Linked DNA regions of Homo sapiens: region 1 is linked to region 2. Evidence: fine-mapped expression QTL. A gene starts in region 2. The other region holds a variant in brackets. All regions are shown on one strand. Distances are from middle to middle. Region 1 holds the start of SLAMF8 (SLAM family member 8). Region 2 holds the start of FCRL6 (Fc receptor like 6).

Evidence for each region.
Region 1: its variant is fine-mapped to the expression of FCRL6 in whole blood (INTERVAL, PIP above 0.99).

The regions. Positions count from the first base shown.
Region 1 is chr1:159,823,985-159,829,359 of GRCh38, reverse strand. It overlaps SLAMF8 (SLAM family member 8), which reads right to left and starts at 2,487. Exons shown (of 5, transcript NM_020125.3): 1 at 2,422-2,487. The coding sequence starts at 2,461. The variant C/T (reference allele first, on the strand shown) is at 2,720.
Region 2 is chr1:159,799,384-159,804,758 of GRCh38, reverse strand. It overlaps FCRL6 (Fc receptor like 6), which reads right to left and starts at 2,399. Exons shown (of 10, transcript NM_001004310.3): 1 at 2,304-2,399. The coding sequence starts at 2,334. It overlaps LOC105371464 (a long non-coding RNA gene), which reads left to right. Exons shown (of 3, transcript XR_922195.2): 1 at 1-2,221; 2 at 2,612-2,811; 3 at 4,197-4,278.

The sequences.
Region 1 (5,375 bases), 25 kb before region 2:
TTACACTGCAGAGTTGGTAGGAGTCAGATCATGCAGAGACCTGAAAGCAATACTGGAGTTTGGGCTTTATCTGTAGAGCAATGGGGCGTCTCAGGTAGGTTTTAAGCAGGAGCGTAACAGGATTAGATGCATGGTTAGAAAGATCACTCCAGCAGGGATGTGGAGAATGCACTGGAGGTGGGCAGGACTTAGGCTGTTCATGTTAGTCCAGTGGAGAAGTGACGGCAACTTGAATTGAGGAAGGGAGCAACCGGGATGGGAAGAAGTGGGAGGAATTGAGAAACACGAAGATGGTGTGTAATCAGTAGGATTTGGTAATAGATTAGCTCTGGGGAGTGAAGGAGAAAAAGGAGTCGAGGACGGCTCCCAGGTCCTTGGGATCCACTGGATGTTATTCTCTGTGATCCAGAACAGGAGGAGAAACAGACAGGGGGTGAGAAAGCAAGATGCTGTTTTGGGGGACTATATTTGAGTCAGACGTGTATGGGAGACGCTTCTCCTTGAAGTGCCCCCCTGACTCCTTTGCTGACTAATTTCTGCCCACTCTTGTAGCATCACTGCCTCCTCCGACCTCCCCTATCCCTCATAGGTAATGTAACCAAGAGAGGTTACATATTCTCTCTTGTGTTCTCACAGTGGCCTGGGGCCACCATGCTGACTACCCTTATCCCTCTATTCTTATTGCCTGTTTATGAGTCAGCATCTCCCACTAGACCGTGAGCTCTTTCTCCCCATCGTTTGCTTCCAGTGCCCACCACTGTTTAAGAACAGACTGTGGGAGAAGCCTAGTAAATGGTATTGAATAAATGACCTACCCTGCTGAGGACTGACCCTATGCCTGTCGCTGGCACAGGGTGTAGGGAAGAATAAGAGGTGATGAAGTTTTGGTCAATGAGACATGATCTGGATGGTTGCTCAGTCGGCCATGATAATTCCGGTCCCCCTCTGCCTCACTGTCCTCCAGGCCCAACAACCTCCTCTCACACTGGAGATGACTTCAGTGTTAATGCAGAGCAGGAATGTAACACACAAAGAGAATTGCACTGGATGTCAGCCAAGACCTAGCTGCTCCTACCTGCTCCTCCTGGTGCTGCCACAGATCAGCTGTGTGCCCTTCCACACATCACCCTGCCCCAGGCTTCAGTACCACTGAAAAATAAGGGGTCTGTACCAGGTCAGTCACACAGATCTTTGATCATTAAGGGCCATTTGAAAAATTATTTTTGGGCTGGGTGTGGTGGCTCATGCCTGTAATTCCAGCACTTTGGGAGGCTGAGGAGGGCGGATCACTTGAGGTCAGGAGTTTGAGACCAGCCTGGTCAACATGATGAAACCCTGTCTCTACTAAAAATACAAACATTAGCCGGGTTTAGTGGCAGTGACCTGTAATCCCAGCTACTCAGGAGGCTGAGACAGGAGAATCGCTTGAACCCAGGAGGCAGAGGTTACAGTGAGCTGAGATGCACCATTGCATTCCAGCCTGGGTGACAGAGCAAGACTCCGTCTCAAAGAAAAAAAAAAAAGGCAAATTATTTTTGTCTCACCAAACAGACCAAGGCCTTTTTTGAGGTTAAGGTGTGATTTCCTGCACATGTTTAGAAATATTGAAGAAATCTGCAGGCTTTGGAGCTCTCAGGGCCAGGAACTCAGGCAAGGAGATGAAACAAAGCAACCCAAAGTCCCTATGAGCCTCTGATGTAAACAATATCATCTTAATCTTTGCTGCACCCCATAAACCCTCATCCATGGCCCGGCAGTGTTGACCCATGTCATGTTGGCTGCTTGTTGACCAAGGAAGGGAACTCAGGCATCAGATGGATAGAGGGATCGCCCGGTGTGGAGGAGACCCCGTGTATCAGCCATCCCAACATCACACCACCGTCGGCCACCCCTAAGTCCACGTGGGCCACATTTAGCCTCTCTCATCCCTACTTAGTACTTGCCTCCCCTTATAAAGGCCTGTAGGGAGGGACCTCAGCTCCCCCACAGGCTGTTGAAAACACACTCTGCTGATTGTGGGGAACCCTGCTCTGCCCTGCCCTCTGCTACTCTCCTCAAACTCTGCAGAGTTTCTGCATGCTAACACTGCCGGGTCCTCACCATTCTCACAGCCGACTTTCTCTCCAAACCAGCAGTATCACCCACTGGCTCCGTTTTTACTGCTCTGGGCCACAAAACAGCTCATGTCTCACAGATAAGAATACCCCTCAAGCTGCCACCTCCTCCCTCCCAGGACCCTGCATCTCTTTGTATCTGCCTAGCTTAAAATGTTGCCCAAGAGCTTGTTCTAGTCTTTCCTACCCACCCTCAGCTTCTGGGTTCTCACCCAGGTCGAGGGATCCCTGCCCAGACGTCTGGCATAGGCAGCTGGGGAGGGGCCTTCAGCTCTCCGAGGACAGGCTATCTGCCTGCCCCACTTACCTTCCCAGAGAAGCAGACTCCACAGGGGCCTCATGACCATCTTTCTCTGGAGAGGCAGGCAAACTCCCTCGACAGCCAAAATCCAGAACCTCCCAGGCCGAGTGGATGCACGGGAGGAGCTGTGGTCCTTCTGGAAAGTCCCATGTTCAGAAGGAGGAATCTTGACTCAGAACAGGATGTCCCAAAAGTGAAAACATCCAGAATAAAGTGGAAGTTGTCCCTGGGCCTCTCTGGGCTTACAGGAGCAGATTCTTGTAAGTCAGCCTCTTTCACATGCACATGGTTGGCTAACACGTGG[C/T]GACAACAGCCCCCACACAAGCCACATCCTCCTTGCTGGATCTCGCTGGCCTTCCTGCATCTCAGCCTGCCTCACTACTATCTGTCATCCTCATTCTAGCTTAAAATGCTTCTGTGGCCTCCCGTGGACCTGAGGATGAGGACTAACTCTGCTCTGCATGCAGGCCCTCCTGAGTCAGGCCTTCTTCTCCAGGCTGGTCGCCCACAGTCATTCTGCCCTCCAGCCATCCCAAGCCAGAAGGCCTCCTTCTCAGAACTACTGATTTCACACTTCCCTGTGTTGTACTTTCCCCACCACCCCGACTAGGCATGCTGCTCCCTCTATCCTTGCAAACAGAACATGGCTGTGCAGTCGGCGAGGACATCCTTCCAGGCTTCCTGACCACAGGCAGGTGAGAGGCCCTCTCCTTGTGTCCTGTGCATGCCCACACCTCCCTCTTTACTCTTGCTGTGTTGTTGATGACAGTTTTCTGGTTTTCACAGACTGTTTAGCCAGTCTTTTGTTCCCTTCTGTGTTGCCCTCAGTGCTTGGCACATTACAGATGTTTCATGAGTATTTGTTAAGTGAGTGAGTACATTCTAGACATGGCTACACATCTGGCTTTATGTAAGCCTTGCAACTCTCCTCTGAGAGGATCATCTTGTTACCTGGTTAGAAATGGGAAAATGTGAAAACCAGAGTGAGGTTAGGCCCCTTGCAGAGCTCACAGAGAGGCAGAGCTGGAACTTGAACCTCAGCCTTTGAAGTGTGGTCTATTTTGCCACAGTTATCCCCTCCTCATCCTGTTTCTCTTCTCACTTCAAGTTTCTTGGTTTCTTGCCAGTGAAGGTTTTTAGAGGACGTGTTGCCCCTGAGGAAAATTCCTGCTAGTCTGGAGTGTGGCTCATCGTATCTGGTCCTGCACAGCCTCTCGCCTGTCAATCAAACTGGACACTGAGCTTTGGACTCAGCCAGGAACTAGGCATATAGGATGGGGTGGGGGTGGGTGGTGAGCAGGAGGATTTTGGGATAAGGTTTTTGCCCTCCAGGTACTCACAACCAAAATGTAGAGATAGGTACACCAAGGAAAGTGAAGGGTTATCTGCAGACAGACACCACTTTGTGCAAACAGGTAGTCAGTCCTCAGAAGTGGGTGGGAAAGAGGGCTTCGCGGATCTGGGCAGGGGACGCTTCTTGAGAAGGTGGAATTTGAGCTGTGCCTTGAAGATGGGCATGGTTTAGATAATATGAGGAAAGGAGAGAGCCAGAGGTTGGGGGTGGGCTCTGGGCAGGAGGGGAGAGCAGAGCGTGCAGGGATGTGGCTGTGGGAAAATACCAAGTAGGCTCCACAGAGGACAAGGGACAGCAGACAGGAATCCTTTAGGGCTGGGTGGGAAGAATGGAAAAGGAGGTTGGGGGCAGATTGTGGAGGCCTTGAAAACTGGGTTAAGTTCTTCTGGAGACTAGTGGCTCTCAACTGTGTTCAGCACTTGGATTCTCAGAGATGCCATCAGGGTGAGCTAGGGCCCAGGAATCTGTGGTTGTAACAAGCACCCCACTCAGCGTGAGTCTGTGGCTGGTGGACTGGGGGACCGCTCCGGAAGCACTGCTTGAAGAGAGGGGCTGTTGCATGTTTTAAGTAGGAGTGGGAGGACAGCAGGCAGGGCAGGTTGGAGAGAACAAAGGGGCCAGGGAACCTGAACAACAGCTGTTGTCTGTTGTGATGGTCCTGTGAGAAGGAGAAGGGACTGCATATGAAGGAAATGTCTAGAGTACTGAGGAAAGGGCAGAACTGGGAAGCTGCCTGTCATGGGGGTGGAGAGGGCAAGGGAGGGAACTCATTTACGACTCCATTGCCAATTCCGTCATTCATTCCTCAGGCATTTATTGAGCATCTACTTAGGTGCCAGGACCTAGGGACACAGAGATGAAAGGCTCAGCCCCTGACCTTAAGGAGTTCACAGAAGATGGTATATATAAACCAATAATTATAACCAGTGTAGCAAGAACAATGTCAGATGTGTGCCCTGGAGGCTGTGAGAGCCGGAGGACACCTTTGACCCTGCCAGGGCAGGTGGGGGTCTGGGGAGGGCTCTGTGGAGGGGGTGGTGTTTGAGGTGAGACTTAAGAATACAATCAGATGAGGGTAGGAGTTCAGAACTCAAGCATGATTCAGACTTCTTGAGTTCAAATCTTGGCTGTGAAACCTTGAGCCAAGTAACTTCCCTGTGCTTCAGTATCCTCATCTGTGAAATGGGGAGCAATAACAATACCTACCTCTTAGTACTGCCAATGAACACATGTGAAGGTTTAACTTGGGGTCGGGTGCAGTTAGCACTCAAATACTAACTATTGCTACTAAATGGCCAGGGAGAGGGAAGTGGGGAAACCTGGGTAAATCAGATAAAGGCATGTTTCAGGCTGGGCAGTCCCCTGTTCTGACTCTCTGCTCCCAGACTGGGAGCTCCATGAGGGGAGGGATCTCCTTCATTTCTGCACCCTGTATATTGCCAAGGACAGGCTTTCGATGAGGCAAAGCCCTCCATGCATCTGTTGGATTGAATTGAATGATTCTAAAATGTCAAAGCCTAGGACTGGGAGGGCTGTGGGATGCAGGTATGGGGCCAATGTGGAGCCAGGTCCCGAATTCCTCTGGAGAAGACAGTGGGCAGTTACG
Region 2 (5,375 bases):
CAAGACAGAAGGCACTCAGGAAGCATAGATGCACTTAAAATGAGCTCCTGTCCCCAAATCTCAATGACTTGCTCCCCATGGTACTGCAAGATCTTGGAGGTGGGATTACAAAATTGGTTTCTGCAATCAAAACAGCAGCCAACTGGGAACATACACAGGGGGTGACACCTGCTTACAGCAGTTCCTGCAATGAGGGCCCAGGGACCTCCATTAGCTATAGGCTGAAGATGAGGTGACAGTATCATGAAGTGGCCAAGAGCTATGGTCAAACCAAGTTGCGTAATAGAATTCCGAAAAATGAAGGCAGGAGCCCCTGCCAACTCTAGGAGCAGGATAATTTCCTCTTAAAGTTTCTGAGGGATCGGGAGATATTTATCTGGGAAAGATGCAACAGAGGAAAGACACAAAATACTTGGTGGGCTAAGCTTAAAAGAAGGGGGAGACTTATTCTGAGTTACTTTATAGGACAGAAATGGAAACTAGAGGGATCATGGAGGCAGATTTCGGCTCAACATGAAGAACTCTCTCACCACTGAGCTCTAGCACTGTGGAACAGGCTGCAGTGCCAAGCTGCAGCAGTCACATTGCTGGGAGGGCTGTATGGGACCCCATGACACCTCCTATGGACGCTGTGTGAGAATGCGGGGAGCAGCCTCCAGTGGTAGGAGGGAAGTTGGCTAATGTTCAGCTCAGAAGAAAATTAAGCCTAATTTCCCAAACTTTAAATACATATTTCACATTCAGCCAGGTCCCCACATGCTCAATGTCAGGATTCCTTTCCTCCCGGAGCCCTGACAGCCAATAATAGTAATAGCCACCAATTTATTATGACCACACCCTGCTCTTGAGAGAGGAAATAGCAGCTCTACACTTATGGTAAGATAAATGTTGCTACACACCCAGCCCCAGTGTCTGTGTTTTAGGCTGTTTTTCCAGGGTCCCTGAGCATCAAGTGGGACCAAATTTGCTGGTGCTGGATTCTCCATTACACTGTGCACCAGTCAGCCGGTCACTGATTCCCTTCCTCTCCTCATTTGCTGTCTGTCATCCTCGTCCTGGGTTCCAAGCTGGAACACTCTCAGACTGTATCTAGACAAGTCCAAGGGCTGTTCCTTTTACAAGGTAGTGCCGGTAGTGCCATTTGCCCCTGGGAGTCTTCTGCCTGGAGTATATCCAGGCATTAGGCTATCCTGTCCCCGCCTCAGTGTGAGCATTAGACCTTTTCATTTGTCCAAATGGCCATTCATAGAACACACGAGTAGCATGCTATGCTGGAGAAGGAACATTGAGTGGAAGGGGCATTTTCCTCACAGGGTCAAATTCTCACAAACTCTGTCCAGGAAGAGGTTATATTTAGGAACAGTTTTGCTTTTCTAGTTCAAGGAATACAAATAGCAAGCAAGCTATTGGGACCAAGAATTAAACAAAAAGTAGGTCCACTTGGAAACTGTAAAGTGAAACAAAATATATGCCAAATTATTTCTTTTAGGTATAAGGGGGGTGACACTGGCTGAGACTGAGCTGGGTCTGGGGGAGCCCAGTGACCCTCTGCGTGCAATCCTCTACCCTTAGACCAGCTCTCTTAGTTACAAGTAGCCTGCATGAGAAGAAATGGAGAGAAGAGAGAGAGAGACATGGATCAGACAATGGAGTTGATTCTTCAAACCAGCCCCATGGATCTGAAACAGCTCCCAACAGAGAGAAGATGTAGGCGGAAGAGAGACAGTCAATTTGAAAAGGGCTTTGGTTACTCAGAGCACAGGCCTTTCAACCAGGTGAGAGGTCTGGCCATTGTTACCTGGTTCTAAGAAAATGCTGAGGCTCCATAAAAATATGTCACCCTGTAAAATTCCACCTCCCATTGCTGAGCAAAATGCCTGGGACTGTTTCCCCTCATTTCCCTGACTCCTTCCCTGTTGCCCCCAGCAGCCTCCTTCCCTCCTGCAACCTCCATTTCCTTTTGAGACAGCTCTGATTAGTATTTTAACCTGATGTCACAAGGTAGAAATGTCATTGGGAAGTTAGGGGACTTTGTAATGTGATTTTCTGCCTCCCTAATTTATCTCTGACATATCAAAGGGCTGCGCTGCCAAGGACCCAGGACTACGGGGTAGGAAACACTGAGGAGTTTCTCCTACCCCAGTGCCCATCTCTCCCAAGCATGCCCAGGTGCACACACCTGTCTTGAGCTCCAGCCACAAACCCACTGGAATTGGGAAAGGTAAGATGAGGAACTTGGTGTCTCAGGGATGACTTACGGTCCTTAGTGCTCCAAGAGGGGATGCCCATGCTCGTTGACTTACCAAAGAGCAGCACAGCCGTCCAGAGCAGCATGGGGCCTGTTCTGGCACAGCGGAGGGAACACAGGTCAGAAACAGGTCAGGGCGAAGCCGGCAGAGAGCAACCAGGCCTCAGGACCGAAGGTGGGTGGGTGGCCTGAGCTGGGTGGTGCTATAGCTTGATAGCCAAAATAGGAAGTGGAAAAGAAACTTACAAAGCTCTAATTGATATTTCCTCTTTGGTTGAAGAAGTATTACATGAATAAATTTTCCTGAACACTAAGTATGAAGGAGTCGGTAAATCACTAATAAATCCCTGACATTTTCTGCAGCTTCAACAAGCCTATGCCAGGGAACTAGGATGGAACATGGTTATGGGACACCTCCATTAGAAAGGTCCAGAGACTGCCCGAATTTGCTTGGCTTCAGCGTCATTCAGCCTGGGAGACAGCGCAGCACTGTAAAACTAAGATCATCTACCCCTTGACCACCGAGTGACCTCCCAGCTTCCAAGGAGCTCCTGTCTCCAGAGGTAAATGTGTGTGGATGCTGCAATGCGATGGAGAAGTGGAGCCCTGAGGATGCTTCACAGGATCCTCAGTTCAGGAGGGAATCAGACATCGATGAGTCTGGAGTAGAACACAGATGGAGCTTCGGCATCTGAGGCTTTTAAGACTGTCAGTATGATTTTGAGAACTATTCCTTAAAAGACACCATTAAGAGAAGGAACAGGCAAGCTGTGGTGTGATGAGATAGTTTAAATACATGTAGCTGACAAAGGGCCCACAGAAGAAATATAAGAATTTCTGCAAGTCAGTAAGAAAAGGACAGACAACATACTAGAAAAATGGGCAAAAATAATTGGATAGGTACTTCACAGAAGCAGATATCCACGTGTCAAATCAACATAGCAAAAGGAGCTAGACATCATAAATCACCGTGGAAATGCAAATTTAAACCATAATAAGATACCACTACACCTTCCATAAGAATAAGGGAGTGATACCAGCTGAGACTGAGCTGGGTCTGGGGGAGCCCGTGACCCTCCCCATGCAATCCTCTACTGAGTATTGGTGAGGATGTGAAGAAACTAGAACTCTTGTACACCACTAGTGGGAATATAAATTGGTACAGTCACTAGAAAATGGCTTGGCAGAATCTACCAAAACTAAACACAGGGATCCCTGATGGCTCAGCATTTTCACTCCTGGGTAAATGTCAAACAGAAATGTATACATATAAGCCTGAAAAAACATATACAAGAGTGCTCATAGCAGCATCATTTGTAATAGATAAAAACTGGAAATTATTCAATGTTCCCTCAACAGAAAAAGAGGTCACACATTCTCATCTCCTCTGTGGACAGAACATGGGAGTTCACGGTGAAACACAGAGTCAGGCAAAATACTAGGAAGCATTTTCATTTTCTTGTTTCTTTTCTTTCTTTTTTCTTTTTTTTATTGAGAAGGAGTCTTGCTCTGTTGCCCAGGCTGGAGTGTAATCTTGGCTCACTGCAACCTCCGCCTCCCAGGTTCAAGTGATTTTCCTGCCTCAGCCTCCCATGTAGCTGGGATTACAGGCATGCACCACCATGCCTGGCTAAGCATTTTCTGACAGTAAAGTTCTTCCTGGAAATCTTTAAGTGAGAAGTTCTACATAGTCTGATGGAATTTGATGTGCCTATTGCTGAGGCCAGGAATGGACAGAGAGAATTTTCTAAGTTTTCTTGCCCTAGATTGTCTGACTCAGTGGAAGTGGGAAACTAATTTGACACTGCCAGGCATTTTTTTCGGTGACTCAGTTGTTTAGGAAAGAGGGAAAAGTAGTGAGGAAGTAAAGTAGGAAGTAGAAATCTTGTCCACTCACCTAAAGATGGCAACATTCATATATTTTCCTCTATCGTTCTCTTTCCAACAGATCTCCTGAGTTGTCTTCAACTTCGTTCAGCTGCAGGTCCTGTGGGTGTGTGGAGTCCCTGCAGGGCAGCAGCTGGGGCAGGAGACAGAGGGGATAACCGCAAGTGGTCTAGCTTGCAAACATTTGTGGTTTGCACACAGAACGGATGAAGCCTCTGCCCTGGCAACTTCTACCGGGTTCTAGCGGCATGAGAGTGTGAACTGCATCTGACTTTTCGCACTTCCCCTGCAGAGTGAGATGCTGTTGCACCTTCAAAGGTGTTGGTGAGCTGAGCCTGAGCTGAGCTGGCTGCATGTTGTTCCCTTGGGGATGAAGGTGACCCTCAGGGAACAGCAACAGGGCTGCTGCCCAGGTTTGGAATCTTCCAGGACTCAGGCTGACCTTGAACTGAGAATGGGATGGGTTAGTGGAGATATTAAAACCCATGATACTAACACTAATACTCTAAGGGAATTCAGGGGCTAAAAGGAGGTGGGATGAAAATAGAGTGTGGATCCTCATCCAGAAGAGGCTCCAGGCCCAGGTGCTCTCATCACTCAAAGAGTCAGTTGTCAGGGCGGCAGTAGTCAGGGACAATGGCCTTTGGGGAACAGGATAAGTCATTCCAGTTCCGGAGGCGAGACGGGAGAGCAAGAGAGCTTGGGGTAGGGGACAGCTCTGCATGGTAGGCCCTAGAGCCAAATATCTGAGCTTGAATCCTCACTCTGGATATGAATCTGGTGAGAGACCTTGGGTAAGTTTTTTAACCAGTCTGTGTCTCAGGGTCCTTATCTCTAAAGTGGATACATAATTACACCTGCATCATAGGGTTGCTATGAAGGTTAAACAAGATTAAAAACATAAGATGCTCTCAGACAGCAAGATCTAATAGAACTTTCAGTGATGATGAAATGTTTTCTGGGCTATCCAGTTCAGTGGCCACAGAGAGCTATTAAGCACTTGAAATTGACTCATGACACAGAGAAACTGAAGTTTTAATTGTTTTTACTTTAGTTGAAATTTAAAAAATTTAAGCAGCTACATGTGACAAGTGTCTGCCTTCTTGGATATTGCAGGCTTAGACCAATGCCTAGCAAGTAGGAAGTGTTCGGTGAAGGTGAGCTATTGTAAGCAGTGTGGGTCAGGAAGACTTAAAGACCAGACCCTTCCTCCCAACCTTAGTGTTTTTGGTGAGTCCCA